6 linked regions of the Homo sapiens genome follow. The protein of the gene in region 4 purifies or fractionates together with the protein of the main gene of each other region. This does not show direct contact. Each region holds a gene or a part of one and is shown on either strand. Other genes may lie near its edges. The genes, in order: MSRB2, TBCA, HADH, COX17, SQOR and TALDO1.

What was found.
Region 1: the proteins of COX17 (region 4) and MSRB2 fractionate together in Homo sapiens (co-fractionation; one large-scale study listed by BioGRID). This does not show direct contact.
Region 2: the proteins of COX17 (region 4) and TBCA fractionate together in Homo sapiens (co-fractionation; one large-scale study listed by BioGRID). This does not show direct contact.
Region 3: the proteins of COX17 (region 4) and HADH fractionate together in Homo sapiens (co-fractionation; one large-scale study listed by BioGRID). This does not show direct contact.
Region 5: the proteins of COX17 (region 4) and SQOR fractionate together in Homo sapiens (co-fractionation; one large-scale study listed by BioGRID). This does not show direct contact.
Region 6: the proteins of COX17 (region 4) and TALDO1 fractionate together in Homo sapiens (co-fractionation; one large-scale study listed by BioGRID). This does not show direct contact.

Annotation. Positions count from the first base shown.
Region 1 is NC_000010.11:23,108,186-23,113,155, forward strand, and holds part of MSRB2 (methionine-R-sulfoxide reductase B2, mitochondrial precursor), read left to right. Parts: intron 1-2,056; coding exon 2,057-2,133; intron 2,134-4,970. UniProt on the Homo sapiens protein: Methionine-sulfoxide reductase that specifically reduces methionine (R)-sulfoxide back to methionine.
Region 2 is NC_000005.10:77,702,296-77,707,265, forward strand, and holds part of TBCA (tubulin-specific chaperone A), read right to left. Parts: intron 1-4,970. UniProt on the Homo sapiens protein: Tubulin-folding protein; involved in the early step of the tubulin folding pathway.
Region 3 is NC_000004.12:107,991,872-107,996,841, reverse strand, and holds part of HADH (hydroxyacyl-coenzyme A dehydrogenase, mitochondrial isoform 2 precursor), read right to left. Parts: intron 1-4,970. UniProt on the Homo sapiens protein: Mitochondrial fatty acid beta-oxidation enzyme that catalyzes the third step of the beta-oxidation cycle for medium and short-chain 3-hydroxy fatty acyl-CoAs (C4 to C10).
Region 4 is NC_000003.12:119,668,301-119,673,887, forward strand, and holds the end of COX17 (cytochrome c oxidase copper chaperone), read right to left. Parts: intron 1,366-5,587; 3' UTR 1,232-1,365; downstream 1-1,231.
Region 5 is NC_000015.10:45,640,754-45,645,723, forward strand, and holds part of SQOR (sulfide:quinone oxidoreductase, mitochondrial), read left to right. Parts: intron 1-4,970. UniProt on the Homo sapiens protein: Catalyzes the oxidation of hydrogen sulfide with the help of a quinone, such as ubiquinone-10, giving rise to thiosulfate and ultimately to sulfane (molecular sulfur) atoms.
Region 6 is NC_000011.10:759,494-764,463, reverse strand, and holds part of TALDO1 (transaldolase), read right to left. Parts: intron 4,343-4,970; coding exon 4,211-4,342; intron 1,121-4,210; coding exon 945-1,120; intron 718-944; coding exon 520-717; intron 177-519; coding exon 31-176; intron 1-30. UniProt on the Homo sapiens protein: Catalyzes the rate-limiting step of the non-oxidative phase in the pentose phosphate pathway. Catalyzes the reversible conversion of sedheptulose-7-phosphate and D-glyceraldehyde 3-phosphate into erythrose-4-phosphate and beta-D-fructose 6-phosphate.

The sequences.
Region 1 (4,970 bases), on a different chromosome or scaffold from region 4:
GACCTCAGGTGATCCACCCGCCTTGGCCTCCCAAAGTGCTGGGATTACAGGCATGAGCCACCGCACCTGGCCTTCACTGATGTTTTAATTTTTATTTTGCTTACTGTGATAGCAGTTATCTATCACTTCCTCTGTCCAGCTGCCCCCCTGCAATAATGAAATTATGTTTTGAGTCTTTCCAGGCTGTCTGGATCCTATGAAAAGGCTTTTCTAGATCAGCCTTAGGACTGGCAGTCCTGTTTTGCATGCATTCATCTTCAGCCCAGGTGGGAAGGATGGGAAACTTCCTCTTTTTTTTTTTTTTTTTTGAGATGGAGTCTGGCTCTGTCGCCCAGGCTGGAGTGCAGTGGCACAATCTCGGCTCACTGCAACCTCTGCCTCCCAGGTTCAAGCAATTCTTCTGCCTCAGCCTCCTGAATAGCTGGGATTACAGGCGTGCTCCACCATGCCTGGCATTTTTTTGCATTTTTAGTAGAGATGGGGTTTCATCATGTTGGCCAGGCTGGTCTTGAACTCCTGACTTCAGGTAATCCACCTGTCTCGGCCCCCCAAAGTGCTGGGATTACAGGCATGAGCCACCACACCTGGCCAACTTCCTCTTCTTCACAGCTGCTAACTAGTGCCAGTGTTGGAAGCAGGCATTTGAGGGGACCGGCCATAAAGGACCAGCTCACTACTGTTTGGATTTCTGCAGCTAAGTTTAGGGTTTTAAAGAAGGAAAACATCCAAGTGTACCCAGATGGTAGGCTCAGTAGGTTAATTTGAAATTGTCTTTTATACAGCTCACTGCAAATGTGCTGTTAATACTACCACAGGGAATTTGGATGTTTAAACTGTGAATTTTTTGAGTTGGGAAGCCTGGAGGGATCTGAAGATTTCCTGAGTCAGCTTTGTCACTTGGTGAGCTGTTCTGTGCTCTGGCTTTCCTCTGGCCCATAGGAGGGGACAGTGCCTGCCGCCAGGCCCTGTGATAGCGGATCTTCATGGTCAGCTTGTGCAAGGGTTGTTTTTTATTTAATTTTCTTTGACAGGGGAGATGACAAAAGAAATTGGGCAAAAATGGTCTTTAAAAAAAAGTCATCAGCCGGGTGCAGTGGCTCATGCCTGTAGTCCCAGCATTTTGAGAGGCCAAGACATGCAGATCACTTGAGGTCAGGAGTTCGAGACCAGCCTGGCTAACACGGTGAAACCCCGTAAAAGTACAAAAATTAGCCAGGCGTGGTGGCGTGCACCTGTAGTCCCAGCTATTCGGGAGGCTGAGACAGGAGAATCACTTGAACCTGGGAGGCAGAGGTTGCAGTGAGCTGAGATCGTGTCATTGCACTCCAGCCTGGGTGACAGTGAGACTTCATCTCAAAAAAAAAAAAAAAATCAAGTTTGAGAAATAACATTTTAAAAAATATTGACTTGGCTAATTCATTGACTTGTCTCCTTGTTCTCCTCTCAGAATACCTCTGAAAACTTGCAAACCCTGTAACCCACAATGAACGCAGTAATTTCATCTAAGTAGTAACCTGGGCACTGAGGGGGTGGGGAATCTAGCTCATTATTTAACATTTATTAAGTATGCTGTGTCCTAAACATTATGTGAAGCATATTAAAGGCAAAATGCCTGATCTCACTGAACTATGCTTTTTATGTATTTATATTCTGTCTTTAATTGGAGATTTCAAAGTATGTTAGACAGTGGACTAGATTCCTGTTGTATTAACTCTTTTAAAAGGGAGACCGAAATCTCACACAGTCACAGAGGACAAGACTCTGTTTTCTTGCTTTTTCACCGACTTTGATGCTCTTGGATGAAAAGTCCTGTATGAATACAAAGATTATCAAAGTCATAATTTGAATATTGGGTGCAATAAAGCCCAGGCTGTAAATACATCTGCAGGCTGCTTCATTGGGTACATTATAATTTTCTCTCTGGCGTTATTTGCACTTCGTCAAATTAGTACAGAAATTCCTTGATTTGGGGACTTACCCAGGATTTAAATCTGCTGTTTCAACTCCTGCCAGTAGTATGAGAAATCTGAACATGACATATCTAATTTACTTTCAGCCTTTCAGTGGGATCTACCTGAATAACAAGGAAGCAGGAATGTATCATTGCGTGTGCTGCGACAGTCCACTCTTCAGGTAAGATAAAGAATTGAGAGCCACGGAAGGAGACCAAACCTCCAGGTTCTTACTGCTTTGTTTCATTTGAGATCTTGGATAAATAAATACCCATAATACCCATTTTGTTTTTTAAATTGCTCTTCTCATTTTGCATTGTTGCTGTAAGGAGAGCTATTCATATAAGATACTTGCCTGTCTTGACTTTTTTTTCTAGCATTTAGAGCCATTAACAAGACTTCTTAGCTTATATTCTTCCTTTCTCTATCCTCAAGAAATAGCAAGGAAATAAAACTCAGTGGGCCCCTTATGATAAAGCTATTAGAGTTTTTTTTTTTTTAGAGGGAAAGTATTTAAAGAAATCTAAACCGTGATTATATTTGCTGGGCCATGTGATTAAAACTCTCTCCCAGGGAAAATGGGTTTATAATTTAATTTAGGAAATGTAGAATTTTATGAGGATAGATTCCCCACAATGCTTGACAGTAGCGAATACCATACCCTCTTCTATATAGCTAAAAGTAAACTTATTTGTCCCTTGATTTCAAAGCCTCTTTTAAGTCAATCAGGATCTGAAATCTCTCAACAAAGGCTTTTTTGTTTAGACATGCAGGAAACAGTCTTAAAAAAAAGTAGATTCGATGGAGAAGAAAGGAAAACATCTTTGAAGTCCTATTTTTCAGAACTTCAAAGATGTTTTCCTTTCTTTTGCATCAACCCTAAATTGGTTTAGAATAAAATATAAATCAAGCCAGCTCTGTGCATTGCCCATTAGGCAGTGCTTCCTTCTGTCCTCTGGGCTTTGAGCAGTCTGGGCCTTCCTGCCCGGCTGGCTGCTAATGTGGGCTGCCTTAGGAAGCCGGACCCGCCTGCAAGGATGAGGAGCGATTAGCATCGATTTTCCTCCGTGCTCACAGATGGGCAGGCCTTTGCCCGGATGCATTCACGTTGGCATGGGGGAAACTAGAAGGAGGTTAATTTTTGCACAGTAAAATGTGGGACTCAGGTTTCTGAGACAATAGTTATTTCTTGACCTTTGGTTGTGTTAAAGAGGAGAGGTAGGATTTTGAGATGGCCCATGAGCTTTCAGCCATAGAACCATGCTGCCAGCGTGTCAAGGGCTCCCTTGTTACCGCAGGCACCAGGCAGTGCTCTGTCTCCCTCTTTGCACTGTGAATACAGAAGATAAATCATCCTCGCAAGAGCATTCTCTTAAATCACAGTCTTCACTCTTCCCCTTCCTTGATGTTCCGGTTTCTGCATCTGAAAAAGGGGGGGACTTCTTCCCTTCCTTTCACCTTGCAGGCTTAGTTGTGGTGTCAGAATACTGGAGCCAGGAGGGTCCTGAGTCCAGAGCAGAAAGCTCTGTCCAGTAGAACTTCCTGTGGTGATGGAGATGTCTGTATCTGGCCATGTGGTAGCTGCTCATCACATAAGCTTGTTAAGCACTCAAGGTGTGGCTAGCATGGCTGAGAAGCTGACTTTTTCAATTTAATTTTAATTAATTTAAACTTAAATTTAATTTTAATTAATTTAAACTTAAATTTAATTTTAATTAATTTAAACTTAAATTTAATTTTAATTAATTTAAACTTAAATTTAATTTTAATTAATTTAAACTTTAATTTTAATTAATTTAAACTTAAATGTAATTTTAATTAATTTAAACTTAAAAGGCCACATGTGGCCAGAGGCTACTATATTAGCACAATGCTAGTTCAAATTAAGGAAGTTAAGTGACCAACTCCAGGTCCTGGAGGTTGTGAAGCAGCCAAGACTAATAGGAAAACCAGCCGATTCTCCAAAAGCCCATTGACCAAGTGGCCAGTTTATGAGACTGCCAATTCACTAACTTTATTTGTTTTTGTGTAACCATTTAGTTTGAGCTGAAAAGTTTCCATTTTGCATTCTTAAAGACTTCTGAGTTTGTTTCTCTTCCCCTTTCCTGTTGCTGCTACTGCAGCTGAAGGAAATAATATATTCCTGAAGATTATTTATGTTCCAGAATATACTATTCTTAAAGATGCACTCATTTATGGGAGAGGCAGTAGAATGGTTAAGATTGCCAAGGTGTATATCCTGGCTCCATTGCTGTGTGACCTTGAGCAAATTTCTTAACCTTTCTGTGTCTGATTTCCTCACCTGTAAAATGAAGATAATAGTACCTAATTCATAAGGTTGTTGGGAGGATAATCTGAGTCATGAATTAATACATGGAAAAGCATAGAGCAATGCCTGACATGACTGACTCAGGCCAGGCACTTGATGCAAGTTAGTAATGATGTTTTTGTTGTTTTGTTTTGTTTTTTGAGATGGAGTCTCGCTCTGTCGCCCAGGCTGGAGTGCAGTGGCGCGATCTCGGCTCACTGCAACCTCTGCCTTCCAGGTTGAAGCGATTCTCCTGCCTCCTGAGTAGCTGGGATTACAGGCGTGTGCCACCATGCCTGGCTAATTTTTTGTATTATTAGTAGAGACGGGGTTTCACCATGTTAGCCAGGATGGTCTTGATCTCCTGACCTCAGGTGATCCACCCGCTTTGGCCTCCCAAAGTGCTGGGATTACAGGCGTGAGCCAGCGCACCCGGGCGTAATGATGTGTTCTTAAGCAATAGATCCCTCTTAGGGCTGTATACATGAATGCGCTTTTGATCCTGAGGAATTCTGGAGGATATATTCTAATTAATGAGAACATACAAATGCAGACTATATTCCTGAGACTTCTTCCTGTTCAAGAGGAGTTTTAGAAATATATTCTGGTTTTGCCTCTCATTTTCCTTCTCTTTCTGTCTCTGGTCTCCAGTCTCTATAGTAGGAAGCAGAGGTACAGAAAAAATAATTCCTTCAAATGCTTGTGTGGAG
Region 2 (4,970 bases), on a different chromosome or scaffold from region 4:
AAGGTTAAATGTTAGTACATCCAAACCATGGAATACTACTTAGCAGTAATAAAGAACAAACTATTGATACACTCAGTAACTTCAATGGACCTAAAGGGAATTATATAAAATAGAAAAAGCCAATTTTAAAAGGTTACATACTGTAGATTCCATTCTACGTTATGTGACATTCTTGAGGCAGTGTAATTATTTAGGGTTTTGGGAGCAGAGAGGATTGGGTGGCTAAAAAGAAGTGGCAAGAGGGAGCTTTGCGATGGAACAGTTCTCCATCTTGATTGGTTGCTGCACATGCTACTGCAGAGAACTATACATGCAAACACACAAATGAGTGCAGGTATAACTAGTGAAATATGAGTAAGCTCTGTGGTGTGCTAAGGCAAACTTCATGGTTTGAATACTGTATTATATTTATACAAGATACTAACATTGGGGAAGGAAGGATGAAGGATGTAACGACACCTCTTTGAATATCTTTTGGAATTTCCTGTGAAATCTATAACAAGAAATTTAAAAAGCAAGTGTATTACCTTCTATAAGCCTGCATATAGGTACCAAGAGACAAACACATTTTCTTGGATGATTGTAAGTTATTTTCCATATTTTTACTACTGATTAAAAGAAAATCTGGGTTTTTCTTTGAGGATCAGCCTTGTGAGACACTCCTGGTCAAAGGGGGATCTTCTTTGTTGACTGAAGCCTCCTAATATTTTCCATATATTTAATGAAAAACATTTCCCCTTTATTTTTAGGAAAAACATAGAAACATGTCATTGTAAATGTTCACTCTTGTTTCAAAGAGTAAAAAAAAGCATATACATCTTTTTCAAAAAGATGAATTTTACATTACTGTAACTATATGCAATAATTGCAAAGCTTTTGTGAAAACTCTTTTGTGAGAAAACTGAGAACTCTTTGTCCAAAAATTATACCAGTTTGTCTTATTACTTCTGGAACCTAAGAGATAAGTTGTGCCTCAGGAGAAATGACAGAGATATGTCTGACTGAGTGTCATTACTGCCAATCATTATGCCCCAGGATAGGTTGAAAAACAAACCAGAAAGCTTTACCAAGTGAGGGCAAAACCCTCTGTACCCAACCCTAATTGGTGGAGAAGAAGAGAGATATCAGAAGCAGAAGGCTAAAATCAATTTGGGCAATATTTGAATGACGTGTTATATTGTTTAGCCAGAAAATAAAAAAAGACAGAATAAATCTTTAATTGACTGATATTCTAGCCTCCTGAAAACTTTTACCTAGTTGCTTATTTTTAAATTTTCTATTTTATTTTATGTATTTTTTGAGACAAGGCCTCACTCTGTCACCCAGGCTGGAGTACAGTGGCATGATCACGGCTCACTGCAGCCTTGACCTCCTGAGCTCAGGTGATCCTCTTACCTCAGCCTCCCAGGTGGCTGGGACTTTTGGGTGCACACCACCACACCCAGCTAATTTTTTGTATCCTAATAAAATTTTTTTATTTTTTGTAGAGACAGAGTTTCACCTTTGATATGGTTTTACTCTGTGTCCCCACACAATCTCATCTTGAATTGTAATCCATACATGTTAGGGAGGGACCTGGTGGGAGGTGATTGGATTATAGGGGCGGTTTCCTATATGCTCTGATAGTGAGTGAGTTCTCATGAGATCAGAGGGTTTCAAAGTGCGGCACTTCCCACTTGTTCTCCTTCTCTCTCTCTCTCCTGCCGCCTTGTGAAGAAGGTGCTTGCTTCCCCTTCACATTCTGCCATGATTATAAGTTCCCTGAGGTCTCCCCAGCCATGTGGAACTGTGAGTCAAGTAAACCTTTTTTCTTTATAAGTTACCCAGTCTCAGGTAGTTCTATATAGCAGTATGAAAATGGACTAATGCAAACAAGCTAGCCCCAGGCTAGTCTCAAATTCTGGGCTCAAGTGATCTACCCAGCTTGGCCTCCCAAAGGGCTAGGATTACAGACGTGAGCCACTGCACCTGGCCTAATTACTTATTTTAAAAGAACCAAAATTATAACTAGTCCAACAGAGGGACTGTCCCCTGATTTTTGGCAACCATCTTCAGGTAAGAGTTTGGTAGAGAATAAGAGATAGCACCTTAACTGTGTGCTTAAAATACAGCCAATTTAGAAGAAGTAGGAAAGCCAGAGCAAAACGGATCCAAGTGAGAGAAGAGCCAAAGTAGTGAGAAGTGACTGAGGATAGTGTTTAGCTCAGAAGAGGAAGAAATCTAGGGAGAAGTGTAGAAAACCCACAAAATGCAGCACTTGGCTGTCTTGATATTTTCTATGAAAGGCACAATAAATGTTAAGAAAACCATTGCTGAACTTAAAGTCCCAGGCAATCACAAACAGAGCAGTCCTTTTGGTTATGCAACACCCATTGTATATGATAAAAAAAAAGAATGGCCACAATATAGCTAAGCCAGGGAAAAGAAATTAAGAAATGTATGTAGGTTGGCTAAAGACAAGTTTTTAGGAAACTCTAAAACAAAACTGCAATTGACAACTATATACATGGTAGGTTGACAACAGAAGCAAACAGAAACAACTATTGTTCTGTAATCAGATATGAAATGTTATTTCTGAATAAGTACTAAGTTGGCTATGAATCTAACAAATCCTGTTAAAAAATATGATACCTATGACCAAAAAGAGAATTTTAACATGTCTGAGGGTAGAAACAACTTTTGAACAATTTTTTTTCCCCTTTTACATCTGTGTATGTAGTCAGTAATGTAACTAGTGTGTGGCTGGTATTTTCAAATGACAATTACAACACAGAATTCAGTAGTTAATCTTTACCTATAAAGTAGTGATTTCATTGAAAGATGATACATACATAACTATAAATGAAATAAAACAGGTTCTGTGATAACCCATAACTTTATTTGTAAAATTTTATTTAGAAAGGGAACACATTTATTCCTCTACTCCATGTAACTGATAACTCCTATTTTAGCTATAGGACTATTTTAAAATACATTATTGATGGTGAAAAAAAGCAGGGCAAAGAAAAAGACTAAATGAGGTCACTAGCTACATGACTGGGAAAACAAGCTGATGAAGTCCAAGAAGGACCTGGATGAAATAAAGTTATATACTGTGTCATAATATTTTCCCACTAGATGTAGGAAAACAATAGAAGACTTAAGAGTGAAAGAGGTACAAAAGCAGTATATATCATAATTTTAAGAATAAAAAGTTACATTCCATATGTAAATCCTTATGAAGGGTCGTTAGTTCATAAAGGCGGACAAGGCCAGGTAGGGGGGACTCACGCTTATCATCCCAGGACTCTGAGAGGCTGGGGTGGGAGGATCACTGGAGGCCAGGAGTTGAAGACCAGCCTAAACAAGAAAGTAAGACCCTGTCTCTATAAAAAATTTAAAAATTGGCCAGGCATGGTGGCACACATCTGTAGTCCCAGCTACTCTGGAGGCTGAGGTGGGAGGATCACTTGAACCCAGGAGTTTGAGGCAGTAACAGTGAGCTAGGATCACACCACCGTACTCCAGCTTGGGCATCACAGAGAGATCCCACTGCCCAATATAATTTATTAATATTAAAAAATAAAGGGGACATACTATATCTACACATCTGTTTGCTAATCCTCCCTCAATTTATGAGTATCTGACACACAAATGTCTTTTATACACACAGTGCTGTATCACAAATAAAGGAAGATGGCCTCTCCTAAAAGCTTAATAAAATAAGAAAGCTATCTTCCTAGATAGCCAAGGGAAGACACAGCCAACAGGTTGTTTCAGCTGCTGCTGCATTTCTTTTGCACGGTAGAAAGCAACTCCCTACAAAAAATTCTATTTTAAATGATTGATTAATTTTGCTGAATAAAGCCTGAGTTAAGTGTGATTACCAATTATGCCACGATTTACATGGCAAAAATGACTGTGAGTTCATAAAGCTGATTTTAAAAATAAATTTTAAGATATAGTCTGTACAAGCTGGTTCACATTCTCCTTTTTTTAAACTGTCATCTGGAAATTATTTTAAATGCATCTAACACTAGATTTTAAGTAGAAGACCAAGTGATCTGAGGTACATTTTATAGAGATTTATTTAGTTGTTGTGGTGGGGAAGGAATGGAGGATGTCCCATTCCTGGTGAAAGAAGTATGCCAACAGGGAGGCTTTTGCAATAAATAGTACTAGCAAGAGATGATAGTGGACTAGACTAGAACAATGGCAATAGAGAGAAAAATAGAGAGAGTAAGAAATAGGAGGTGCTGGCTGGGTGCGGTGGCTCACCCCTGTAATCCCAGCACTTTGGGAGGCTAAGGTAGGCAGATCGCCTGAGGTCAGGAGTTCAACAGCCTGGCCAACATGACAAAACCCCGTCTCTACTAAAAATACAAAATTAGCTGCGCGTGGTGGTGCATGCCTGTTAATCCCAGCTTCTTGGGAGGCTGAGGCAGGAAAATCAGCTGAGCCAGGAGGCAAAGGTTGCAGTGAGCCAAGATTGCACCACTGCACTCCAGCCTGGGTGACACAGCAAGACTCCATCTTAAAAAAAAAAAAAAAAAAGAAAGAAAGAAAAGAAAAAAAGAAATAGGAGATGATGCTGATATTAGATGTGGTTATGAGAAAGAGATAAAAATATCAAGAAGGGACCAACTAAATTTTTGACCTGAGTATCTGGATGAGTGGAGGTACCATTCACTGAGATGAGGAAAAAGAAAGAAGAAATTGTTTTTTGTTTGGGAGAGTAGGTTGGAGTAGTGTGAAATCAAGATTTTAATTTTGAACACCTCAGAGGATATGTCAAGTTTCAAGGTGAAAGTGGTAACTTGTGTCAGATGCTATTGAGGTATTTAAGATGAGGGAAAAAAGAGTAATAACAATGTCACTGATAGTTATAACAAGGGCTAGGGCACATAGTCCACTCTTACAGGAAGGAAAGTGGTACAGGTACAGATGCAGATAGGTTGACAGATTTTGTCGTAAGAATATGAGAAAGTTCC
Region 3 (4,970 bases), on a different chromosome or scaffold from region 4:
GCTCACTGCATCCTCCGCCTCCTGGGTTCAAGCAATTCTTCCACCTCAGTCTCCTGAATAGCTGGGACTGCAGGCATGTGTCACCATGCTCAGCTAATTTTTGTATTTTTAGTAGAGACAGGGTTTAACTTTGTTGGCCAGGCTAGTCTCGAACTCCTGACTTCAAGTGATCTGCTCGCCTCAGCCTCCCAAAGTGATGGGATTACAGGCGTAAGCCACCATGCCTGGACTGGTTTTTTTCTTCAAACAGTTAAATTAATTGGACAGACTCCTTTATTAGACTTCGAATTTTACATTTCAAAAAGTATTTCTAAAAGGCAAAGAAAGTGTGCGCCCATTTTTAGACTAGAATTGTGTTACATAGTTTTTTTTTAATTCAGTAAGTGTGTAGGTTTCATAATAACCCAGATAACCTCTCCCAGACTTCTCACCTCCCACAAATTCTGAAAAGGTAAAGGGATAACCAGACATGTCAACAGCATCGTTATATTTAAGAATCCCTGGAAGATGTTGCTATGATGGACACTTTCCGGGTAGAGGAGAGTTATAAATCCAAATGCCTCTCCAGGAAGACTAATATGACAATGTTTGCCATGATGAGTGGGTTTTTTCTTTTAGTTTTTGCTGAAAGGACCAATTAAGAGGCTCCCATGACAATTCAGGTTAACACACCTGGTCTAGGAACTGCAAAGGAGAGGGCAGAGGAAAGAGCTCTCCCATGACCAAAAAGTTACAGAGCCTTTTCTGGTATGGAGACACTGATTGTGATCCCATCTTCAGAGTACATGTGGCTGGAAGAACAACTGCAGCAACAGGAGGGGCAAGCTCTCTGGAAAAAGCTGGAGGGGAAATAATGAATTAGATCTTGGCAGGTGAGTTTGAGTCTACCATGGGCAGAAGGATGGCAGCACAGCACCCTGATGTAGACGACCAGCAGGTAGACTAACTTTGAGTCCAGAGCCAAGGAGACGTCAACCTGGGATGTACTGATTCCAGAGAGCCACAGAGGATCCCCTGCCATGGATGCCACACTTCTCCCCACAATACAGCACTTGCCAGAGGTGCAGGCAGAACTGAATTCAGGCTTGGGGATTTACAGGCAGCAGAACAGAAGAGAACTCAAGTTCTAACCCCAGCTCTGCCTCTGACCATTGACCCCAGGAACCATCTCTGCAGGGGTGATTATTGTAATGGTCACATGAAATTAAATAAATCAAAATTCTTTGAACAGAATAAAGTGTCATATTTTGTAGAGTGGTTTTAGCTCTACAAAAACCAGTAAATGGTACACTATCTTTCTCAACAACCCACATAAATAAGTCTTAACATCTTTAGAATTGCTGGAACTCCCTATATCAAAACTCTTCCGACAGTGAAGACAATCTAAGAGAAATCCTCACTAGATCAGGTCTGATGGGTCTATGTGAAAGCAGCTAATATTTATCAGACAGTTACTATCAAACACACTAATGCTATTCTAGGAGCTTGTATATTAGTTCATTTAACTTTCACAGCTGTCAGGTGAGTCTCATTATTCCCAGGTAAGTAAAGAGGCAGAGAGGAGTTAAGTGATTTGCCCAAGGTTCCTAAAGGCAGGATAGGAAGGCTAGCATCTAAACCCTGGCAGGGACCTCATAGCCTGTACTTTTGAGATTAGAATACCACTACCAGAAATAATAACATCATGAATATAACAGGGGGAGCCACAGAGAACATCCACATTATCTTCCTGTGGTCCCAGGAGAACTAGAGAGTGAGGTGTGTGTGCCTACCACAGATAAGAGAGAAGGGAGAGGGGAAGAAAGAAGAAACTCAAGCAAGGGGCAAGTGATTAAAGCTGGAGGCAGAACATGGCAGGAAAATGCCAAAACCTGACTGACTGAAGTGCCATTTCTGCTCTAAAAAATGTCCAAACATATCCCATAGCATTATTTTCTGTTGCCTGTGAGCCCTACCTCTTCTACCCTCTAGGAATGACAGTATCTCCAACCTCACCCAGAGTCCAATAACTAATATGCTAATAGAGGGTGGTTCTACATCCCAGTACCTCAACCAAGAGCAGAGAACAGCCCAACAAAGATAAGCAACAACTCGGGAAGTAGGGGGAAAACTTCATAACAAACAGACACATCTCATGTCCTTCAGCAGGAAGGTAACAACTGGGAGTACAAATATTCCCTCCATAAGGAACAGTCAAAAGGAGAGCTTACAGCCAGGTAACTGCTGGTCTCCTGTGATCCTGAAACTTCTCCTAGGCATCTGTACTGCTTTGCAAGCAAAGCAGTACTGTACTGTACAGCTCAACAGAGCTGTACTCACAGTAGAAGAGAATAAAGCTAAAAAAATATGAAACAACTCTGATCATTCTCTTTTTCAGCATCAGAAAATGCAGATTTGGGGGCAAGAAGAAGAGATGAGAGAACAAATCCAGTGGCTGGGGAGAAGCTTTCAGGTCTACCTGAATCCTTATCAAGCATGGTAGAGTCACACAAAATCCCTGCAACGTAGCAGGCTCTCCCTGCCCTTACTTTGTTTTTAATAGCCAAAGAAGCTCTCTCTAGAAAAAATATGCACTTTCTGCTTTTTAAAAAGGAGGAAAAAAAAAAAGCAAGCTTTGGGAGAGAAGAACCTATCCCCAACCCCCTTTAAGATGCAAACTTTCTCACTTCCTCAAAGAAGAGTAGTGCACTAAAAAGAAGGTTGCACCCGGAGAGCATGTAAAGTGTCTCAAGGGGGACATCTGAAGTGCCCCGTTCCCAGGGAGCCCACTGGCTCCTCACAAGTAATCTAATGAAAGCTATGCATTCTCTCTGGGCTCCTCATATGAAAAAACCCAATGTATGAAGCAAAGCCTAGAAAGGATTCAATACTGGAGAAATGCACACAGCTACCAGCTTTCTTCCTTTCTTGTTTTCCTCTTTATAAAGCAAAAAAACAACCTGTCCCCCACTCAAGGCTCATTTAATCCTATAAGCTTCTTTATTGGCCTAAGTATCCAGTGAAGATAAATTAGCAATCAAAACCAAGTCAGAAGTGTGTAATAAGCAAACACATGAAACAAGTTAACTTCAAATATTAACCTGCAGTCTAAGGGATTTTTTGTTTTTTTAATTTAAAACAAACAAAAGAAATGACAGGCAAAGTAGATACTCTCGGAAAATACACATGTACAAATGGCCTGTGCTCTGATCAAATGTAATTAAGCACTGAACTTGTCTTAAATTGCTTAATTGCTTGAGAAATGCATCAGGCTCCCACAAAATCTATTTAAATATTTTTTCATCCTTCTGAGCACAAACTGACGTGTTTAAAATGACAAAACTATTAAAATTATAAGCAGAACTGCACCTTGACTAACATTAAAACCACGTCAGAAAGTTCAAGAAAATTAAGCTAATGAAAATCAGTAACATAACCTCAATACTAGTTTGTGATTGTACTTTTATGGCTTTACTAAAGTTTAACAATAAAATGGGGGGTAACTAAAAAGTGTTCTCCCTCCTTTCAGAGGTCCCTGAAAAAACATACCCGCTGCAGCATCAGCGGGTATATGCATTCAAGATTAAGCAAGATGAAACAGGGAATCATGACCAATATTCTCCATCTAAACCTTACAGGCCTACCTCAGCAGCTGTGATCAGGATGGGAGTGGATATGAGGGGAAAAGGGCAAAAGGACAGGACAACTGCAATGAAGATGATGATTATTCTTTTTATTTATCTTTTTGAGACGGAGTCTCGCTCTGTTGCCCAGGCTACAGTGCAGTGGTGCGATCTCGGCTCACTGCAACCTCCACCTCTCAGGTTCAAGAGACTATTCTGCCACAGCCTTCCAAGTAGGTGGGACCACAGGCACATGCCACCATGCTGGCTAATTTTTTTGTATTTTTAGTAGAGACAGGGTTTCACCATATTGGCCAGGCTGGTCTTGAACTCCTGACCTCAGATGATCTGCCCCCCTCAGCCTCCCAAAGTGCTGGGATTACAGGCTTGAGCCACCATGCCGGGCCGAAGATAATTATTATAAAGGCAGCTAACTTTCTGTGAACTCTTATTACATGCCAGACACTGTGTAAGTGCTTGACATATGCTTGATATATGTAACTGCTTGACATATGCATGAATTCATTGAATTTATTCAATTCTCTCCCTACGAGGCCAGTACTAGCATTAGTCTACTTTAGAGATGAGAAAACCGAGACACAGAGGTAAAGTCCCATGTTAATACTGCATGAGGCAGAGCTAGCATGCAGACCATCCAACTTCTTATATTGAACTGTAGCCCATCTGTACTCAAAACACATCAACTAATTCGTCTCTGGCACTCAATAAGCAAAACAGATTTACCCTATGCCAAAAGCTGTTGGTCAAGGAGCATAAAGAATGAAGCAATACTGCCTAGAACTGCATGCTACAGGGTAGGGTGCAAAAGCAGATAAGCTAAACCACTGCAAAGCATTGCTCACAAATGTTTTAGAGGATTGGAGCTGTCAACTAAAGTAACTGAGGTTTTTCCAAACTGTGTTACATAAGGATGGAACTGTTTCTTATGGTCGTCCACTTTATAGATTTCTGGTCTTTATAACCTTTCAGAATGACAGTTCCATTATGTGTCCAGCCTATGGCATAAATAGCTTTTTTTTCCCTTAAGTTTCAAAAGGCACTCCCTGGTCCACCTATTTAAGAGTTTGATTGACAAGCACAAGCCTGTGTTCTCCATTAATGTCAATCATTTCTCCTTACTCCTTTGTCAGGTGAAAGCTCCAACACCATACCTGTAATTTTAGGTATTGCCCCTCTGCCTTTTAATGCAACACAACATCCATTTTTGGCCAATGATGGATGCAGCATTCAAAGAACTAAGCACTCTGATTTTCTACAAAAGTTGAAGTGACGCTTTCTACTTAGTTTCTAATCTTTTTCCACTGCTGTCTTCAAGGACACCAGCCACAAGTTTCTGGATCCATTTCC
Region 4 (5,587 bases):
CAAAGATCTGTATTGGGTGGGAAGTTGGTTCATACCTGTCTTAATTGTCCAAGATTCTATTCTTCACCTAGATTATCTCTGTAAATCATGAAGTGCTTACTAAAAGTATTATATCCAAATGAATATTCAAGTAAAAATATAAACAATAAAATAATAGAGAATGCTAATAACAGTGCTAAATACTGTGTATACATCATTTTTAATTAGTACTGACAATCTCGTAAGTTAGGTATTACTTCTATACCTTTTTTTTTTTTTCAGCTGAGAAAAACAGACCCAAAGAAGCTATGCCTTGCTTGAGGTCACATAGCCAGCTATTGAACCTAAGTCTGTCATACATCAAAGCCATGCTCTTAATGAATTAGGAAAGAATCTTAAGGAATCATCTGATTCAGCTCCTTATTTTATAAAGGAGGGACTTTTCCCATCACACAATGATACATGAACATTATACATCCTCTTAATTATGTTCTCAGTATCTTTTGTTCTTGAGATTTTAGACTCAATGTACTTACAAGCAGAATATGATCATACTTCATTAGCCCATCAGCAGCTACGAGGATGACAAGGTTGCTATACTAAGGAAATCACACTCTGTTCAACTCCAGGCATCACCATGGCATAGCACTGAGCTGTTTGATTAGTGACATTTAATACCAATTCAGTCTCTAGCCTAATTAATTTCTAATTAATTCTAATTTCTAATTAGTTTCTAATTAATAAGAGACAACTGTCTACCCTGTAGGCACGAAACTTAAGATCCTAGTCTATTTTAAAATGTAACTACCCATGTACAGATTCATAATGCCAAACAGTTGAGATCTTCTAAGCCAAATTACCCTAATCTGGTCCAAAATCTAAACTAACTTTTCCAAAAGACAGCTAGTAAAGAATAACAATAATGGTTTAAATAATAAGACTAAAGGCTTGTTCTTACCTTTAAGAAAGTTAAAAAAAAAAAAAAAAAGAGTGTTGAATGAGATGATATGGCTACCACACTGATTCTGAATTGGTAAAGGGTTATTTTACTTCTATGCACCTAATTCTGGAGATTTCATTGGTTGAGGTCAGTATCTGCTTTCTCCTGACAACAGATATCCAGAGTTCCCAGAATGACATAGTAATAAGAACATAAGAACCTTATGTTACAAGATTTGTTGGTATATATCCTTTGGGGGAAAAAGCCACGTGAGCAAATGAGGAACACAAAAAAGAAACACAACTGAAGATCTTCCACTAGTAATATTTTACTTTCTTCTTACAATAAATTATAAATACTTTTTCCACATATCAAAGTTCGTCAAAGAACTCCCAAAATTAATCTTCTTCATTCTTCAGGAATTATTTATTCACACAGCAGACCACCTACAGAAAAATATTTATTTTAGAAAGTCAGATTTCAAACATCATGCCAGATCTATGGAGTCAGGGAATTAAGACCACTAGAAATGAATGCCTCAGATGAGTAATTAACTAATTGCCAGAATTATTCCAAATCAGTCATAAAATTCAAAATCAACATTTTAAAATTCTAGGTTTGCCTAACTAAAAACATTAGTGAAATTATTCATGATATTATTTACTCTTTAAAAGTTTTTGAAGTAAAAACTCTCTCTGCGTGTATATATATATAATACATATGTGTGTGTTTGAGAAATACATATTTCTCAAAAATATCCTCCAAAAAAGGCTAAAGCAGTTATTTTTACAGATATTCAAGAAACAAGACCTGCAAACCCCTCTTTGCTGATTCAAGTATGCCTGGCGAAGATCCACAAAGTAGAAGGCAGAAGGTCAGCTCAGTACCCAAGGCACTTCCTGTGGAAAGTTACTCACTTAATCCCAAAGGCAAGACAAGGGCAACCCTTTAATATTCATTTGGAAAAATCAAAAAGGGAGAGTAGCATAGATAGGGTTGCTGATCCAGTCAAGTCAATACCAGGCTTCTCACACCTCTCCCAGTGCCTATCCCAGAAGATTGAGAACAATGCTAGGAAGGTAATTAAATTGGGGTAGCTAACTCTTCAAGTCTAATGCAAATATTTCCTTCATTTAGCTGTTCACTTCATTTGGTTTAAATAAAGATAAACCACATCAAGATACAAACATCTAAACTCTTTTCTAAAAGACTCAAAGGAAGAATACATTTATAGAAAAGTTTGGAAAGATAACCAAAAACGAAGCCATTCAACCTTTCAATTATAGCAGCCCATAGCATTGTTACGACTTTTGCGACTGACTACATAACAAAAGGGGCTGTGTGGTGGAAGACCCTGGATTTAAACCTGTTTGATTATATCTCTGGATGTAAAGTCTTTGACTGGAGGGATAATCTTTCTCTCCTCAGTATTTTCCAGGGTCTTAATAAATATCTGCTGAATGAACAAATGTTTGAATGGCAGAAATTATTCTTTCTGGATTATCTTGGGATATTTTCATACATGATCAGTTTTGTGTGTGTGTGTGTGTGTGTGTGTGTGTGTGTGTACAATTCAGCATATTTTAAGCATCCAACTGTTAAGTTGTTAAACTTAATATTGAGTATCACCACTATTCAGTACTAGTCCTTTAATTTCTTTCAACGACTTTAGTCTCCAAAATAGGTTCTTTAGGCTTCTTCTGTCTCCTAAAGGCAGGAAGATAGTAGCCATCTATTTCCTCATATTTCTAATGAGGTTCTAGGTTCTTCTAATTACTCTTTTCAGTAAAAGCAGCAGTCATAAAATAGAAAAAAATTGTCTAAAATCACCACCATACCTATTTTTTCTTGAGTTTTCAAGTCTCTGCCTTTGCTACTACTAAATTTTCAGATACTTTATGCCTAGCATTATCCCTGCTATTCATCTTCAACTTAGGCCAGTGGTTGTTAAAGAGGAGTGCACTTGAAAATCATCTAGGAGTTTCTCAGTCAACAGGTGCAGACCAGGGCCCAAGTTGTGAATTCTGGAAAACATTCTTCAGATGATTCTGAGGTGCACCTCTGGGTAAGAACCACTGGGTGAATGTAGCCTACTTTCAGGTAAGGTATAAAAAATGTATAATAGATTTATTCCCAATCTACTGCACTTGAGGTACAATTAAGATCTACTTAGGAATAACATTAAAATCTACAAAGGTTTTTGAATTAAGGAACTTTCATGATCGTTGCCAGAGAGATCTAAGTTTGCAAAATATTTTTCCTTTGAAGCTATTCTCAGAAAAATGTGATCTAACAGTCTAAGAAATACCGATTTAGGTTAAGTTTATCTTATAGCAATGCAGACAGTTGTGTTGGATTTCACCCTCCAGCCAATGGCCTGTTTACTGGGTTATATGCAACTGTACATTTCCGCAACAAGTCTTTCTAATTAGCATTCATAATGAGGTTTTAAGATTGAAGATCAAGATTATGTGCAATCCTAAAAATGAATATGTTGGAATAAAATCTCATTAAGTACAAGGCGTGAAGTGTAAAGTGCCTGTGATTTAGAGAATATAAAAATCTTAACTCTAATCTAATTCTACCACTATCCACTCCTAACTTGAGCAAGTCTTTTTTGACTTCACTGTGCTTCCATTTCCCCATGGAGGTTGGGGAAATAGGACACCTGGGACCAATAAGGATCCAACACCCAGTCCTCTTCCCAAAATATTATTACACTGAAAATGAAAAACATGGCAGTTTGAATTCTCAGAAGGGTCCTATATGGATTCAGATTGTTCTTCTTGTAACCAGGATTCAATAATAATCAAGTCATATACTTAACAGACCTCAACTGAATGTCTGCTATCCACAACTCTAAAGGTATGAGCTATTCTGTTCTGGTTTTTACAGATGATTTATTTTACATTGAATCATCACAACTCTATGAAGTAGTTTGGGCATGTATTATTGTCTCCATTTTACGGATGAGGAAACCAAGGTACAGAAAGTTAAGGACCTGCCCAAGACCACACAATCAGTTAAGCAGTAGATTTTCTAAGTCTAAAGCTTTTGCATTTTCTTTTACACACAAATGAAGTACACAAACATAATTCTCACTCTCTGCCCTGATAACATAAAGAAAACTATGATATCATATGATACTTTTGAATATATGCCACTTATAACAATTGTACCACCTTTGTGGTTCAGATGAAGTCCAAGATAAGCTTTTGATATTCCTAAAATTAGCATTTCTTTTTATTTAATCACCCCTTTTTATCAAGGCAAGTTCAGCACAAGCCTACAGCTTACACAACTGACGAGGGAGTTAGATCATGAACAAGGAAACCATGTACAAATGTTAAGGTTGCATCTTTAAAAATAGTTAATAAAGTACACATACTTTTTAAGAACACACTCCCCTTCAAATTTACTTATTTTATAAAATAGTTCATTATGGGATTTCTTTAAATAACCATCTATTCTAAAAGCAACTTAAGTATATCATTTACACAACAGTAGATATACCATACTATATATAGAATCACAAAATGTATTATGGTTCTCTTTTTATAAATAATAAGTGAAATTCAGAGGAGTAATGTCTTGATGAAGCTAAATGTAGCTAAACTTAAAAACATGATAAACTAAACATCAGGAGAATAAAAACAAAGCCTCAGGACTTTCAGCCTAGACTGTTTTCCATTACACAGTAACTTCTTATCAGCTTGCGACAAGTTCCTTATCCCTCCTTTTTTATAGCTCAGTGAGGAAGACTGGCCATATGTGAAATTCCAAAGAGGCAGGAAAGAGGTGCAAGGGAAAGAAGCCAGGCTCTCTAGTACTAATATATTGGCATATGGCTTTGGCATTCTCTCTCAGCTGTTATTAAGTTAAAAGTGGTAGTGTGGTGTGGAAGTTAGGGTAGGGGCAAAAAGCAGAGGGAATCGGCATGGAGACTGAGGCTCCAGTTCTGATACTGCACAACCCACCTTGGGGGCCATTTCATAACTATAAGCTTTAATTTCCTTATTTATTCATTCATTTAACAATCCTCCATTAAGCACCTACTATGAGCCAGGCACTGTTATAGGTAGTGGGGATATGACAGTAAATGAAATAGAAAATTCCTACTTTCTCAGAGCTTACATTCTAGCTGCCGTGAAGCAACACAGGTAATTAAAAATATATGTATCATGCAGGTGACAGTGTATAGAATAGAGTAGCCACTAGCCACATGTAGCTATTAAAATTTTTACAAACTAAAAATTCAGTACCTCACTCTCACCAGCCACAATTCAAGTGCTCAACAGCCACATATGGCTAGTGGCTACCAGACTGGCAAGTGCAGATACAGAGCATTTCCATCTTCACAGAAAGGTCTTAGGACAGCACCATGATAGAGTGATGGGGAAGGGATGTAATTTACATGGGGTGTTGAGGGAAAGCCTCTCTAATAAGGAGACTTTTGAAAGAGACCTGAGTAAAGAGGGAGTGGGGTGAGGGGGTGAGCTAAGTTGATAACTGAAGAAAGAGCTTCCAAACAAAAGAGTATCATTTGTTTGTGGAATTGTTGGACACATACCACTTAAGGTCCCTTTCAGCACTTAAAATGGGTTAAGAGTTCCAAGTTCTTTTAAAAATGGCCTGAGGCCCACCGCCCTGTCTGGGATGTCAGGAGTG
Region 5 (4,970 bases), on a different chromosome or scaffold from region 4:
TCATTTAACAAACTCAGGAAAACAAGTTCATCCCTGTTGTGTGACTGGGAGTACACTGATTCCACCTCAGGCTTCTTTTTCCAGTGAGTCATGTCCTACAGTCTGCAGATGGGCACACACAGGCATATACAGACTAGAAAGGAAACCTGAAAATTACCTGACCAGAGGCCAACTATGAGTGGTGGGGTTGAAGGGGAGCTAAGTCGTGCTTCTTTATGTACTAGAATGTGAGAAGTCAGGCTCCCACTGGCTACAGCAAGCAGAAAAACAAGGTGTTCTTTCATTTTTTTTCCCCCTATATAATTCAGTCAAAACTCTTAACTTTCATTTGAAATAATCCAATTGACTGACATATTTTTTCTTTCCTGGAATCTGAATGCAAGCATTTTCCTTATGTAAATATAATTTGTGTTTTCTGCTTAGCAATTGTATTGGTTTGGTGAAATTGTCAGTTCTCTTGTTACAATGCATTCTCTGATTGTAAAATAAGGATAGGTCAGGATAATTTGTAGGAAATTTCTCAGGAGCAAAGGGAGCCACTGTTTCATTGTAAAGTCCTCATTAGCAACTCTTAATCAGTAACTCTGCAAAGAAAATTCCTACAGTTTTGCCCCTGAAGAGTGAGGGAACTAAAGAACCCCAGTGCAGCTCCCAGTCCTTGAATCATCAGAGAGCTATATAGATTGTTCCTATTTCCCCAGTGACTCAGTCCTGGCCCACTACTGGTGTACTTGCTTCACAGCTTAATATTTAAACAAATGTTTGGATTTATAACAGCTCCAGAGGGAGAGTTTCAACATGGCCCTGCAGGGCTAAGTGAAGATTGCTCCATTTTCTTTATTTGTTAACAGTATAGTAATCCAGTTCCTGAACACACAAGGCAAGAATAGCACTGCCATTACTCAAGCAGAGGTGTGCCAAGAGGAAGAGCACAGCTGCTATCCTTTCTCGGAACAACACTCATTCAGTTTTCAAGGGGGGTGCTTTCCTTCTCCCTCACAGTGCCTTGGACCTTTACTCCACTTTGAGTAATTCTAGTATTGCTGCTCACATCCTGTCTTCATTATATTCACCTGAACAAGTGGATATAATGTCATCGTTCACATTCTTCCTTCTTCTTTATCCCCTATAGCTGATTGTCGCAAAAATGTCAATGTGTGTCTCACATTCACACCCCTCATCTCTGTTCCCATTCAGACCCCACCCTCACTGTGCCTGAATTTCTGAAACAGCCGCTTAATGGATCTTCATATTCCTGGTCTTTCCTGTTATAACAGACAGACTCTTCTTACCCATCACTGGCTGTGCAGTGCCTAGCACAATCCCTGGCATTTAGTAAACAATCAAAAATGCTGAACTCAACTGAATTGCTCCAGTTCATCCTCTCAGCTTCCCCTGGGGACTCTTTATAAATCCAGTTTTATTAAGACCTTCCAAGGGCTCTCACTGCCATTAGCAGTAACCACAGGCTGAAATGCACACCAGGGCTGAGCAGGTAACAAATGAACAACATAGGCTGAGTGGGGCTGGAGTGAACTGAAACCTTGTGCATGGTGGAGAAGACCAATGACTGCTCAGCTCCAGCCAAGAGTTTCCATGTGAGAATGTGGGCTTAGTGTTAGAGGCCAAGAATCTGGAATATTTTTTGTCGAGATCTCCAAATTTTTTAATGTTGATGACTAATTCAAAATTCAAGAAAAGCACTGTGAGCCAAGCAAAACACAGCTCTGGCCTGCACTTGGCCTGCAGGTTGCTGCTTTGTGACTCCTAGATCAAATTGCCATTGTCTGGGAATAAGCTCTCAGACCTAAACTTTAGTAACACATGCCTATCCAATCTCATTTCTCCCTCTTCCCAGAGCGCTAGACTGCCCTCCTTTATATCCACCGTTAGGAGATTCTCATTGCAAGTGATTCTCCTTTCAAAATCTTGAACCCAACTGTCCAAAAGTAGCCCGAACAGGTCCCTGACATAACTTCCCTTTTTCTGCTCACATAATTCCTTTTTCTTCAGCTGTCTAGATGTCAACTTTGACTTTTTTTTTTCTTCCAGAAGCCTTTCCCACGTCTTCCGAAATTATTCTCTCTTCCCAGCCTCTATCTTATCTGAATCTTTGTTTGCATTTCTAATGCTAACACCTAATTCAGGAGCTTATCGCTCACACCTGGACCACTCCAATAGTCTCCTAACTGATTTGTCAAAATTAGCCCATGTGAAACTGGTTTTGTTTCTCCTCCAACAGGAGGGTTAATTTGTTCCAACACCAGAAGATTCTCTTACTCAAAGCTGCCCCTTTGTGCGATCACTTTCCAGAACTTTGTTTTCCCATGTAAAGCCTCAATGCCCTAGCTAAAAGAGTGGGAGGGGGTCAGGCCTGGAGAAATTGCTGTCTCTCAGCTTGCATCCTTACATACAGTGGGCGCTCAATGAATACTTGTGGACACATTCTTTTTTCTTTTTGAGATGGAGTCTTGCTCTGTCACCCAGGCTGGAGTGTAGTGGTGCGATCTCGGCTCACTGCAGCCTCCGCCTCCCAGGTTCAAGCAATTCTTCTGCTTCAGTCTCCCAAGTAGCTGGGACTACAGGTGCGTGCCACCACGCCCAGCTAATTTTTTGTATTTTTAATACAGATAGGGTTTCACTGTGTTAGCCAGGATGGTCTCAATCTCCTGACCTCATGATCCGCCTGCCTCAGCCTCCCAAAGTGTTGGGATTACAGGCGTGAGCCACCATGCCTGGCCTGGAAACATTCTTAAACAGCAGCAGAATTGTGACCATGCGAATTTCATGTAAGTCTATTTCACAAAGATACACTTACATATTTAGCATAGCTAAATGTAAGTAATTTAATCGTATATCATTTGCGCAGGTAAAAATTCTCCTAATAAAAATTCAGCTTAGATTATCTTTCCTGATTTTCAGTTCTGCAAACTTAGCCCCTGTGTGATTGAGACAAATTCAGTGTAGGTATAAACCTGAATTTGCACATAGACTTATATGCTGCAGAAAACTTGTTTCTCACCTTCTTTTCTGAGCACTTCTGGCTGATGCCCTCCTTTATCAAGGTTAAATGGATAAAATAGATGTGAAGATTTTTCTTGGTGGAGAAGATATCTTAAGTTTCAATAGAATGGAGGATAGTATATGACAAAGGAAAGGAAGGCCACGTGCTGCTTCTTCTAGAGCGGTTACTGCCTTAAAAACTCAAACTGTAGCTATGTTATTTAGTTGCAAAAATTTATAAAAATTTAGCTCAATCACCCACAAATTGTAACATTCTTCGGTACTATGTAATTAAATTGCATTTTAGAGACGGCATAGAGACGGCGTATTTTTTTTTTCTCCTTTTTGAGACGGAGTCTTGCTCTGTTGTGCCCAGGCTGGAGTGCAGTGACGCGATCTCGGCTCACTGCAACCTCTGCCTCCCAGGTTCAAGCGTTTCTCCTGCCTCAGCCTCCTGAGTAGCTGGGATTACAGGCACCCGCCATCATGCCTGGCTAATTTTTGTATTTTTCAGAGACAGGGTTTCACCATGTTGGCCAGGCTGGTCTTAAACTCCTGACCTCAAGTGATCCACCTGCCTCGGCCTTCTAAAGTGCTGGGATTACAGGCATGAGCCACCGCGCCTGGCTTTTAAGATGCCGCCTGACAGTTTAGTGGATATGTGAGGAGAAGAAGCCGAGCAAAAATGTGTTAAACATGTAAAAGCTTCCATCTGACTGAATAGTTGGCACATGCATTTTAATCTAGATGTATTACAACGTACCTGGGATTTGTTTTAATCAAGTATGGTGAGGCCAACAGATCAGGAGGTGACTGCCATGAAGGAAGAAGCTCTTACTCACAGTTCCCTAGAAACAGGAGGCATAACACCTCACATGGGGCCATATGGGAAAGCACCTGCGTAGGTGAAGGGGCAGAAAAAGTGAGGGGAAAGAACAGGCAAAAGACTGTATTGTGAGGCAGGGGAAAGGGCTGGCTAGGTTTGGGATTGGCTAGTTTGAATAATTTTAGAGTGCTCCAGGATTCATGAGCTGCCTATAGTTGTAGTTGTCTGATGCCTGGCCCTGGAATAATAAGGGCAGGGGAAAATTGCCTCTTGCAGGGTTAAAGCCAAATAGAGGAGGTGGTTCAGAATATGGCTCTGGATTGATTGGTTTACATATCAAAGGTGTGGTCATAGGCAAGCCAGGCAAGCCATTTACCATCTCTCAGAGTTAGCTAGTCCTGGGAGGGGCAGTCTCTGGGATTAGCAAGACCCCAAAATGTCAAACCATAAAAAAATACAGACAATGAAAAACAGAATTAATACAGCAGGATTCAGAATATTGACAGGAAGGGGAAACAGTCAGTTGCCTTCCTGGTTTCATGAAGTATCTAATGCAGTGCCATTGATATGTGCTGTAAATATTACTGGACACGTTACTTGCATGTATTTTGGATTAAGAGGAGATTATGCTAAGGATCTCATTTATGGGCTAATGTTTGGCATTTTCTTGGCAACCAAAGTCATGCTAATCAGGTGACAGTAACAATTTCCTTTTTAAGGTATTTCCAGATTTAGACCCGCCTTCTTAGAGTTTAAGTCAGAGGGTGTGATGGTTAATTTTATGTTCCAGTTTGACTGGACTATGGGGTGCCTAGAAATTTGGTCAAACGGTATTCTGGGTGTGCCTGTGAGGGGGTTTCTGGATGAGAGTAACATTTGAATGGGTAGATTGAGCAAAACAGATTGTCTTCCCCAATGTGGGTTGGCCTTACGCAATCAGCTGAAAGCCTCAGTAGAACAAAAAGGCGAACACTCCCGTGAATGAGAGACAATCAGCCCTGCCTGCCTGAGTGTCTTGGAGCTGGGATATCGGATGTTCTTCTGTGTTGAGAGTCAACTGAAACATGGCTTGTCCTGTGTCTTGAGCTGGCCTTGAGACTGAAACTGTACCATAGGCTCTCCCGGGTCTTCAGCCTGCTGA
Region 6 (4,970 bases), on a different chromosome or scaffold from region 4:
CATATGTAGGTACCCACACACAACACTCACTGTCAGCATCCGCTCCAGCTTCACTGCATCAGCGGCAAACTTGCGGATCCCGTCAGAGAGCTTCTCCACAGCCATCTGGTCCTCGTTGTGCAACCAACGGAAAGACTTCTCATCCAGGTGGATTTTTTCCAGGTCACTGGCTTGGGCTGGGGGACAAGAACCAGCCTTCCATGCCTGCTCCATGTCCCTGCCCACCTTGGCCCCTTGGGCTCAGGGCCTGAACTGCTGCACCCAAGCATCTCCCACCAGGGCCAGGCCTTGGCCCCAGCAAGGCTCACGCTGGAAGTGGGGTTCAGCCCACAGAGCCTTGGCTGATGACTTGAGTGAGATGTGTTAGGAAAGCCAAGCCCTCCGTTGAGGTCTACTTCACCCTCATGTCTCCCAAGATGAGCTCGCCCCACAGGTGGGAGGGATCACCCACAGGGCAGCGTGGCACGGCAGTGCTGGCCTTGCCCGAGCAGGAGCCACAGCTGGGCAGTGGGGCCTCACCCGCCTTGGCTGAGAGCACAGGCACCAGCTTGGCGTTGTCCTGCAGCAGCTCTCCCAGGAGCTTGGGTGAGATGGTGAGGAAGTCACAGCCGGCCAGTGCTTTGATCTCGCCCGTGTTGCGGAAGGAGGCGCCCATGACAATGGTTTTGTAGCTAAACTTCTTGTAGTAGTTGTAGATTTTAGTGACACTCTTTACCCCTGGAAAGAGACCAAGCTGTGACCAGGAAGGCTTCGGCAGAGGTACCACCCCACCTGCCCTCCCAGTGCCTGCCGGCTGCACTACCTTGAGCCGCCACCCCTGCCTGCCCCGCGCCGACCTGTGCACCTCACTGCTTGTTGATGCGGCAGCTCCGTCTCGGGCTCTTCCTGCCTGAGGTGCTGCTGAGGCTGCTCCCCTTACCCCATTACCACAGAGGGACCCTCACCAGGGTCTTCCAGGGGCTCATAGGATTTCTTGTCGGTGTTTGCCACATGCCAATCAAGGATGCGCCCAACAAATGGGGAGATGAGGGTCACACCCGCCTCGGCACAGGCCACAGCCTGGGCGAAGGAGAAGAGTAACGTCATGTTGCAGTGGATGCCGTGCTGCTCCTCGAGCTCCCTGCGGGGCGGGGACAGGTGAGGGCGGGGCAGGTGAGGGCGGGGACAGGTGAGGGCGGGGGCGGGTGAGGGCGGGGACGGTGAGGGCGGGGATGGGTGAGGGCGGGGGCGGGTGAGGGCGGGGGCAGGTGAGGGCGGGGCAGGTGAGGGCGGGGCAGGTGAATGCAGGCCAGGTGCCCACCCAGAGCCACAGGCTGCCAAAGACGCTCACGGGCCTTAAACTAAAAAGGCAGGAACAGGCTCATGCCATTGTTAAGAACAAATCGGTAAGACTCGAGGGCTCTAAGTGGATAGTGGGTTATGGGTGACCAGGATTTTCTCCAACCCACATGACACAATAGACAAAGGCAAGGGAGGCCCTCTGGGTGCCCGTGCTCTTGCGCCAGGCCGTCACCTCATCCCAGAACTCACCAGGGCTCAGCTCCCAGGCTAGAACCACTGAGTCATCTCTGACCACATTCCAGTCCTCACCCTGTTCCACCCTACCCATTCCTGGGGCCACCCTGCAGCAGGCCCGTAGCACCCTGGTTTCTGCTGAGAGGAGCCCCTTGGCCTCACTAGGCCACTTGCCCAAATCCCAGTGCACTTTGGACATCCTGGGGTTGATCCCCAAGGACGGAGCAGTGCCCATACTTTGCCATGTGGCTGGGGCATGGGATGAGACAGCCAAGGCTCTGCTCAGGCACCTTCAGACACAAGTTCCCTCCCCAGGCGCCTCTGCCACATGGCCACACGGGGGTGTTCGAGGGGGACAGCAGATGGCACAGCTGAGTTGGGAAACAGCCTGCAGTTCCTCCAGCAGTCACCCAGAGACTCCACTCCTAGGCATATGCCCACGAGAAACAAAAACACATGTCCAGGACAAAACTTGCACATCTGTGTTCAGAGCAGCAGATGTGTTCATAGCAGCAGATGTGTTCAGAGCAGCAGCATACATCACAGCCCGAGAAATGGAAACCGACCACAGCAATATACATCACAGCTCAAGAGATGGAAACTGACCAGGTGTCCACCAACAGATGAATAACTGTGGCCTATCCATAAAATGGAGTATTTTCCAACATATAAAAACAAATGGTCCGGCCAGGTGCAGTGGCTCAAACCTGTGATCCCAACACTTTGGGAGGCCGAGGCGGGCGGATCACCTGAGGCTGGGAGTTTGAGATCAGCCTGACTAACATGAGAAACCCCATCTCTACTAAAAATATAAAATTAGGCGGGAGTGGTGGCGCCTGCCTGTAATCCCAGCTACTCCGGAGGCTGAGGCAGGAGAATCTCTTGAACCCCAGAGGTGGAGGTTGCAGTGAGCTGAGATAGCACCATTGCACTCCAGCATGGACGAGAATGAAACTCCGTCTCAAAAACAAAAAAAAACAAAAAAACACACAAATGAGGCCAGGCACAATGGCTCATGCCTATAATCCCAGCACTTTGGGAGGCCAAGATGGGTAGAGATCTCTTGAGCCCAGGGGTTCGAGACCAGCCTGGGGAACGTGGTGAAATTACCCAGGAGTGGTATGTGTGCTTGTCATCCCAGCCACTTGGGGGACTGAGGTGGAAAGATAGCTTGAGCCTGGAGTCAAGGCTGCAGTGAGCCAAGTTCGTGCCACTGCACTCCAGCCGTGGTGAAAAAGTGAGATGCTATCTCAGAGCAGGTCAGTGATGGCAGGTGGTAGAACATGCAGACACACAGATGTGGAAACAAAACACCTCTTCCTGATGCGAATTATTTGAGTATAGCATTGGCTGCTTCTGGGTGAGAACATCATAGAGGAGTTTTACTTTGTTTTATACATTTTCTGTCTCTTCCACTCTGAACGTACATATGTTTGGTTTGGTTTTTCTGAGACAGGGTCTCACTCTGTCACCCAGGCTGGAGTGCAGTGGTACGATCATAGCTACTGGAACCTCAACTTCCCAGGCTCAAGCGATCCTCCCGCCTCAGCCTCCTAAGTAGCTGGAATCACAGGGGTGGGCTAGTTTTTCTTTTCTTTTTTTTTTTTTTTTTTGAGATGGAGTCTCATTCTGTCACCCAGGCTGGAGTACAATGGTGCAATCTCGGCTCACTGCAACGTCCACCTCCCAGGTTGAAGTGATTCTCCTGCTTCAGCCTCCCATGTAGCTAGGATTACAGGCACCTGCCACCACGCCCAGCTAAATTTTTTGTAGTTTTGGTAGAGACGGGGTTCCACTATCTTGGCCAGCCTGGTCTCGAACTCCTGACCTCAGGTGATCTACCCACCTCAGGCTTCCAGAGTGCTAGGATTACAGGTATGAGCCACCGTGCCCGGCCTAAAAGTTTTCTTTTCTTTTTGAGACAGAGTCTTGCTCTGTCACCCAGACTGGAGTGCAGTGGTGTGATCTCAGCTAACTGCAACCTTCGCCTCCTGGGTTCAAGCAATTCTCCTGCCTCAGCCTCCTAAATGGGACTACAGGTGTGTGCCACCATGCCCGGCTAATTTTTTATATTTTTTAGTGGAGTCGGGGTTTCACCGTGTTAGCCAGGATGGTCTCGATCTCCTGACCTCGTGATCCCCACGCCTCGGCCTCCCAAAGTGCTGGGAGCCACCGTGCCCAGCCTAAAATTTCTTTATATTTTTGTAGAGACAAGGTTTCACTTTGTTGCCCAGGCTGGTCTGGAACTCCTGGGCTCAAGTGATCCTCCCATCTCAGCCTCCCAAATTGCTGGGATTACAGGCATGAGCCATCTTGCCCAGCCAGCATATATTTTATATAACAATAGTTTACTTTTTAAAAATCATGTAAACATAGGCTTGTGTTGATCAGGACAGAGGAAGGACAGAATCTGAATCTGCAGGTGCTAACTAGTGGCTTTTCTTCTCTGCTGAGTGGGTGGATGGTACTTCCTGGGAAATCCCTCATTTCTGATCACCAGCAAGTGAGGGAGCTGGCTCTGGAGCAGAGGGCAGATCTAGGCTGACATGAGCTGGTCAAGTCCAAGCTGTGGGCTGTGCTCCCCAGTCTGGCATTCCCCAGGGCTGAGAGAGTCAAACTTGCCTGATGCCATGTAGACCCTGCTCCAACAGAGGAAAAATCTCTGAGAGCTCCTTCCTTGTGGGGGACCACTTACTTTCCAGCCTGAATTCCTTCCCAGGTTGATGACAGCTTTATAAGAATTCGGTCCTTGCTGATCCCAGCTTCCTTGTAGAGCTCGATGAGCCGCCTGGCTCTGGCCACCATCGCATCTTTATCAAAGGAGAGCCTGTAGGAGCAAGAAGAACCCATCCCCTCAGATCACGCAGGTTGCCCACCACGCAGAGCAAGCTGGAGGCCGGGTGTCTGCCTGTCAGTTTTGAGCAGCACCACCGTGAGCACCAACCACTGCCCTCAACCTTCCCCTCACTGGAGGTTTGCAGAATGGCTCTGACAGCAACTCACACCCAGTCTCACAAACAGAGGTCCTCAGTGGGATCCATAGGCTATAATTTGTATTAAAAAACACTGGGCCAGGTGCCGTGGCTCACGCCTGTAATCCCAACACTTTGGGAGGCTGAGGCGGGAAGATCACAAGGTCAAGGGATCGAGACCATCCTGGCCAACATGGTGAAACCCTGTCGCTACTAAAAATACAAAAAAATTAGCTGGGTATGGTGGCGGGTGTCTGTAGTCCCAGCTACTTGGGAGGCTGAGGCAGGAGAATCGCTTGAACCCGGGAGGTGAAGGTTGCAGTGAGCTGAGATCACACCACTGCACTCTACACTGGCAACAGAGCGAGACTCTGTCTCAAAAAACAAACAAAACAAATCAAAACAAAAAACACTAGCAGCCGGGCACAGTGGCTCATGCCTGTGATCCCAGCACTTTGGGAGGCCGAGGCAGGTGGATCATGA